Homo sapiens: one gene and its partner. The protein of the gene in region 1 interacts with the protein of each later gene in a pairwise test. Each region holds a gene or a part of one and is shown on either strand. Other genes may lie near its edges.

Evidence for each region.
Region 2: the proteins of SCCPDH (region 1) and PAXIP1 interact in a two-hybrid assay, tested with the Homo sapiens proteins (one large-scale study listed by BioGRID).

What each region holds. Positions count from the first base shown.
Region 1 is NC_000001.11:246,727,320-246,731,137, forward strand, and holds part of SCCPDH (saccharopine dehydrogenase-like oxidoreductase), read left to right. Parts: intron 1-3,818.
Region 2 is NC_000007.14:154,971,807-154,975,624, reverse strand, and holds part of PAXIP1 (PAX-interacting protein 1), read left to right. Parts: intron 1-719; exon of another isoform or gene 720-3,818.

The DNA of each region.
Region 1 (3,818 bases):
GTATATTTTTTATTTATAAATTATATTCTTGTACTACTGGGTAAATATATTTTTTAAATGCACAAAAAGAAGACTAAAAAACGACTCATTTATTGAATAAATATTTATTGATGCTTACCACATGTGAAATGCACTATTGTAGGCACCTGGGACACAATGGTGAACAAAACAGAAAATCCCTCGTGGACATTACGTTCTTGGGGAAGACAGAAAAATAGGATTGTAATAGGAGGTAATGAAAAGTGCTTTGAAGAAAAGTGAAGCCAAGAAAGGAGAAAAGGTCCTGGCATATTGGTGTTTTTAGATGGATGGTCAGGGAAGGTTTCTGTGAGGAATTGACATTTGAGCCAAGATCTGAATGAAATGAGAGCAAATTGCATGAACCTTTTGAGGAGAGACTTTTCCAGGGACAGCAGGCACAAAGGTCCTGAGATGCCAGTGTGCTTGGCAAGACTGAAGAGTGTGACAGAGGCCAGTGTGGCTGGGCATGGCAGAGAGGTGGAGAGTGGATCAGAGAGCAACCCGGGAGCTGGGTCATGTGGGATCTTACGGGCCATGGCCAGGATGTGGATTTTTTTTCCAGGTGTGACCAAGAGGCGTTGAATGGTTGAAAGGAAGGGCTTCAGCTGATTTAAATTGGAAGTTCTTTGGCTTCTGAGTGGAAAAGTAGATAACAAAGGATGAGCAATGGAATGGTGCAAGCACAAGCCCTGGGGTCGTAGTGGTGCTGAGAAGTAGTTAGGTCCAGAGTATATTTTCAAAGGAGAACGGCTTTTGCTGTTGTACTGTGAAAAAGTCATCAAGTCACAGGCCATCAGACTTTTGGCCTGTGTAACAAGGTGAATGTTGGTGACATTTAGTGATCTGAAGAAGCCATCACAGTTGGCAAGATGTTTAAAAATTAAATATCTAAAATATTAATAATTTTTAATTGAGAGCAAAAGGGTTTTTGAATTGCTATTAAATAGAAGTGTTGTTGATTTAGATTCATCTCATTCTTAACTAGCTTAGATTCCATCCATGAGGTCCACTGCTGCACTCTATAATGGACGCCCTCATCTATCTCCCTTGCCTTTTTCTCCTCAGTACTCTGGAAAAATCCCAGCCCTGGTTATTCTCTGCCTGCTCTTCACCTGAACATGAGTAACACAGTGTGGCTGGAGAAAAATGTATCCCCCTGCTAACTGGTCACACTTCAAATATGTGTTTACAAACGTTGTGTGGTGCTTAGCACCTCCGGCAGCTCTGCTCTATTTCCCTCAGGAATTCTCTCTCCTGCTCTCTGAAGCAGCTCACAACCTTGTTTTCCTTGAACTTTTAGTATCCCGTCTCTCTTTCCTTGTTCTTATCTGATTTTATTTTTCTTTTTTTTTAACTATGAAAATAGAAGCTGGTTAATAACAGAATTTCTTTCTTCATCTTCCTACCACCAGATCTATCTACCTACCTACCTGTCTGCCAATCTGCATCATACCCTGTAGTCTGCCATATCTCTTGTTACAAGGAAAAACTGGTCCTCTTCCTATTGGGCACAGTTTTCAAAGACTTTATTATCGGGGGAACCAGCCCCCAGTATTTCAACATAGGTTCTTTTCTATTTTCCCTAAGTGTCAGCCAGTCTGAGAAATAAAGAGAAAGAGTACAAAGAGAAATTTTACAGCTGGGCCTCTGGGGGTGACATCACTTGTTGACAGGTTCCGTGGTGCCCCTTGAGCTGCAAAACCAGCAAGTTTTTATTAGGGATTTCAAAAGGGGAGGGAGTGTACAAATAGGGAGTGGGTCACAGAGATCACATGCTTCAAAAGGCAATACGGTATCACAATGCAAATGGCAGAGCAAGATCACAAGGCCAGGGCAAAATTAGAATTACTGATGAGGTTCCATGTCCCGCTGGGCACGCACTGTCATTGATAAACATCTTAACAGGAAACAGGGTACGAGAGCAGACAACCAGTTTGACTAGAATTTGCCAGACTGGAATTTCCTAATCCTAGCAAGCCTGAGGGTGCTGCAGGAGACCAGGGTGTATTTCATCCCTTATCTTCAACTGCATAAGACAGACACTCCCAGAGCGGCCATTTTAGAGACCTCCCCCTGGGAATGCATTCCTTTCCCAGGGTTATTCCTTGCTGGGAAAAGAATTCAGTGATATTTCTCCTATTCGCTTTCTGCAAGAAGAGAAATATGACTCTCTTCTGCCCAGTCGCGCAGGCAGTCAGACATTATGGTTATCTCCCTTGTTCCCTGAAAATTGCTGTTATCCTCTTCCTTTTTTAGGATGCCCAGATTTCATATTGTTCAAAGACACATGTTTTACAGTTTGTACGGATAACTCAATCATCACAGGGTCCTGAGGCAACATACATCCTCAGCTTACAAAGATGACAGGATTAAGAGATTAAAGACAGGCATAGGAAATTATAACAGTATTGATTGGGGAAGTGATAAATGTCCATGAAATCTTCACAATTTATGTCCAGAGATTGCAGTAAAGACAGGTGTAAGAAATTATAAAAGTATTAATTTGGGGAACTAATAAATGTCCATGAAATCTTCACAGTTTATGTTCTTCTGCCGTGGCTTCAGCTGGTCCCTCTGTTCGGGGTCCCTGACTTCCTGTAACACTTTATGTTTACAATTACACATTATCTTGTTATCAAATTTCTCCTCTTTACTGGATTATTTCAATCAGCATTTAAATATGTGATATCTCCCATATTTTAAAAAAAGCTGCTTGATTCCACATACCCTTCCAACTACTCTACTTTTTGTGCCCCCTTTTTAGCAGCCTCCTTGGAAGAATTCTCATGACTCACTATCTCTGCTTCTTCACCTCCTACTCTATCTTAAACGCCTCCTATTGGGCTTTTGTTTTCCTCCCTCCTCCAATGAAACTACTCTGCTAAAGTCCCACCCTGTCAAATCCAGTCTTCATCTGAAAGCTTGCAGCATTCGATCCAGCTGACCACTTTCTCCTTTCTTTGCTCAGCTTCTACGTTGTCATCTTCTCGTAGTTTTCCTCCTGTCCACCAGCTTCACCCTGGAAGTCCTCGTCTCCTCCACTGCGTCTTTGTCCTCCCCACTCTAAATGCTTGAGGCCTCAGCGTTTAAGCTTTAGAACCTCAATAACCTCATTCAGGCATTAGGTTGCAGTAAAGTGAAAACGACTGAATGAATGAAGAGTGGTGCTGAGGCCCTCTCTGTGTGATGGAAACTTTCCCACAACCCCATCAGGATACCTGCTGTGTCCTGTCTTCAACACATGACCACTTAACATGGCCCAGGGAATGTCTCGTAGTCAGTCCATATAGTAACCGTTAACGGAACGTCATGTTTTTGTAAACATTAACATGGATAAAAGTTCTGATATTTACTTCCACCCTCAGTGGATCATTCTGCGCTTCCCTTAGGGGAAGACTACTTGGGAGACCACTGGGTTAGAAGATGGAACTTTGAGGGCCAGGCGCGGTGGGTCATGCCTGGAATCCCAAACCTCTGGGAGGCTGAGGTGGGCAGATCACTTGAGGTCGGGAGTTTGAGACCAGCCTGGCCAACATGGTGAAACCCTGTCTCTACTAAAAATACAAAAAATTAGCTGGGCATGGTGGTACACACTTGTAATTGCAGCTACTCGGGAGGCTGACGCAAGAGAATCACTTGAATCCGGGAGGCGGAGGTTACAGTGAGCTGAGATTGCGCCATTGTATTCAAGCCTGGGCAGCAAGAATGAAACTCCAGCTCAAAAAGAAAAAAGAAGAAGATGAGACATGGAGAGCAGGATTGCGGTTCTGACCTTTGAGCCAATTGGCCTCACAGGG
Region 2 (3,818 bases), on another chromosome or scaffold:
AGTTTATTGGTTTTGCTTTTTCAGACCAAATAACTTACAAGCAGTATTTGTGTGAGAACCTGTTTACTTGTGTGTGTGTGTGTGTGTGTGTGTGTGTGTGTATGTGTATATATGTATATTTCAGGGTCATTGAAAAAGGGTAACAGCGTATTTTAAGTTGAAGATTTAAAGCAGCTGAGTAGAACCAGGATGTCAGTGATGGAGTACTATCCGTTGAAGGGTTTCCACTCTTACTTAGTTTAAAATTAGCAATGGCAGCAAAGAGAATAATGAAGTTTACCAGCTGTACCTGATTTGCTTATAATGAACTTCATGGTAGTAAATAAATAACACAAATTCATGCATTTGTTGAGGAAGGCTTGATTTCAGGTTACAGTTTATATAGCATGGAGCTTATTGATACAGAGTGGATCTTAAGTTTTGTTGCTGGTTGTTTTTTGTTTTGTTTTTGTTTTTTTTTTTTTTTTTGAGATGGAGTCTCACTCTGTCGCCCAGGCTGGAGTGCAGTTGCATGATCTCTGCGCACTGCAACCTCCACCTCCCGGGTTCAAATGATTCTCCTGCCTCAGCCTCCCGAGTAGCTGGAATCACAGGCATGTGCCACCATGCCTGGCTAATTTTTTTTTTTTTTTTTGTATTTTTAGTAGAGACAGAGTTTCACCATGTTGGCCAGCCTGGTTTTGAACTCTTGATCTCTAGTGATCCACCCACCTCGGCCTCCCAGAATGCTGGGATTACAGGTGTGAGCCACCACGCATGGCCTTAAAAGTTTTAAGTACATATATTTCTATTTAAGACAGAAAGAAGGTAGTTGAGGTGGTATATTGGCCACTCTGCATTTTTCTGGGCACTGGAGATAAAATTGTGACTAAGAAAACTAATTTAGGTAGAGAAGACATACAGTAAGTGGAGAAATATGAACAAAAGGACTGTTGATGGTGAAAGGTGTTTCAAAGAAAATAATCAGGGTCCCGTAATAGCAGGTGAAGGGAAGGAGGCTATTTTAGACGAGATGGTCAAGAAGGACCTCGGGCAGGAGGTGACTTAGATCAGGGTTGAATGACAAGGAGAGGCCATGTGAAGAACTGAGGGCACAGAGTTCCCAGGCAAAAGGAAGACCCAAATGGCATGAATTTGCTGAGTTCTAAGAAAAGAAAGTTAATGAAATTTGAACTTCATAAGGTGAATGAGTTCTAGGAAGGATTTAAAAGGGGCCTTGCCATATAGGGCCATAGTGAGGAGTATGGTCTTTCTTGGAAGGAAGCCACTGGGCTTTTGAGTTGGGGTGAGATGCACTCTGTGTAAACAGTGGATCTTTGAGGGGCAAGAGTGAAGCAGAGAGGCCCCTTAAGAGGACATAGAGTTGGAGTTTGAGACAGAAAAAAATGAATGGGAGGATCCAGCTTTCTGGCTTGAGCGAGTGAAGGAAGATGATGCTGTTTCAGAGATAAGGAACACTGGAAAGCTGCAGGTTTGAAGAACCTAAGTTTCTTTTCAGATGTGTTGGGTTGGAGGTATCTGATCCATGCAGGGGCTGTCTGCTACGTGGTGGAACCAGAGAAAACAAGGCTGACTGAAGCTGTGGAGGCGGATGTGAGAATGTGTAGTAGGTGGGGCAGAGCAAGAGGAGGGTCTGGGGCCAGGCTCTGAGGAGCCGCACCATTGAGAGCCAGCTGGGCTGTTCCATCTGATGGTGACACCCCGTCTGCCGCTTCACCTTGTTCTGGACACTTTCATTTCATAATGACAGCTCAAAGTCCCAGAAAAATGGCTCTGTAGCATATAGGAACAACCTGAAGCCGGATCCAGTATTCTCCACATCCACTTTCAGTGGAAAGGCTTGATGTTGATGAAGTGGGGAAATTCAGTATGGCGTAGGTATAAGGTGATGTTGACAATGATCATTTTATTGGGTATGATAATAGCAGTGGTTTACGTAGTGTTTAGAAATGCTGTGGGACAGACAAAATCTTTGTCTCCCCTCCCCTCCACCTAAGCAGCGAGTATTAGTAGTACACGGTTCTTGGGATGATGACAGCGGTTGGCTGGCATCCAGAGTAAGATAGAGGCAAACATGCCCTTTAGATGTTAGACAGCAGACAGTTAAGATGGTGGGGGAGAAGGTGAGCAGAGAGAGAAGGTCATCGGGTTTGAGGAGAATAGAAGATTTTCAAATAGGTGATTCATAGATAGGGAAGACTTTGGGTTTCTGGCTTGAGAGGTGGATGCCTGATAAAATGCCGAGCTGGCCTTCCTCAAGTCCTGGGTGGTGACAGTGCCTTGTAACTGAACAGCAGCTGCCCGTTAGGAGCTCTTGGGCCTGCTTCAGTGCCCACCGCTCCATGTCACCTTGTTGGGTCCCGGAGGAAAACAGGCCTGCCACTGACCATGGGTCTTGGGGGTGGTTGGGAATGTGTGGCTGAGGAAATGGGGAGAAGGCCACCAAGATGAGGAGGTCCAAGAGCTGCAAGGCCAGGGATTGTCCAGGTGGGTGCCCATGAGAGCGCTGGGGTCAGCCGAGTTTAGGGAAAAGGTAGATGCACAGAAGGAGCCAGCTCCAGCACCGCCCAATGCTGAGGGTGCCGGCCCTGGTCCCTGCACATCCGCGTCCAGGCAGGTGGGCGGGATAAAGCCACAGGGCACAGCCTCAGCCACAGAGCAGCAAAGTGACGATCACACAGTCGTCCTGAGAGCCAGAGGATGTCATGACAGGTAGAAAGTAAAGGCCATAAAGAATGACAGGCTAGAGGCAAAGAGGATTCTAGCATTTTTGACCTCAGTCATGAGAAGAGTGATGATACTGCTGAGGTGGAGGAATTGAGAAGGTGACCCAGTCCTGGCAGGAAGACTGCGGCCACGCAGTGGACCTGTCCTGTCAGCAGTGGGATATGCGAGATATGGGCCGTAAAGATCTCTCTCATAGGGTTGGTGTGAGAAATCATGGATTAAGCCTCTGGCACTTCGAGAAATGGCTACTTTCTCACTTTCTTTAGGTGAGAAATTATGGACAGAAGTCATCCATTTGAAATAGGAAATTTTCTTTGCTTTTCATTTATCTGTGGTGTCAAAAAGTGTTGGTCAGTTACTGCTGGTTAGTTACTACTTATTTCTAATATATATGTTTTGGTTGTTTTTTGAGACAGAGTCTCACTCTGTTGCCCAGGCTGGAGTGCAGTGGTGGGATTTCTGCTCACTGCAAACTGCACCTCCCTGGTTTAGGCGATTCTCTTGCCTCAGCCTCCTGAGTAGCTGGGATTACAGGTGCCCATTACCACGCCCGGCTAATGTTTGTTCATTTTTATTAGAGACGGGTTTTTGCCATGTTGGCCAGGCTGGTCTCGAACTCCTGACTTCAGGTGATCTGCCTACCTCGGCCTCCCAAAGTGCTGGGATTATAGGTGTGAGCCACCGTGCCTGGCCTTATTATGTTTTTCAAATACAATGGATGTTGGTTTAAATATAAAGTTCCTTAAGTTTGTATTTGGATATAGAGACAAAATAATTTACTTTGAAATGGAAAGAATTGACTGCAGTAGGGAGTTTGGGCACATCTCTGCACTGGAAATTGTCCTTAGGAGACAAATTTGATATACTCAGCTGTGTGCTCTAGCGGTGGAAAACTGAGAAGGCTCCATCCATTTCTAGTGAGTGAATGGATTTGATCACTAGTGAGAAGAATTGCGGAGATTTTCTGAGAGACTTTCAGCAATGCAAGAGAACATAAGGACGTTTTACTTCTAGATGTGAAGAAAATGACTGAAACTTTAGAAATATGAGACAGATTTAGTTGAACATTAGATTGTTGGGGGGAGTGTAAC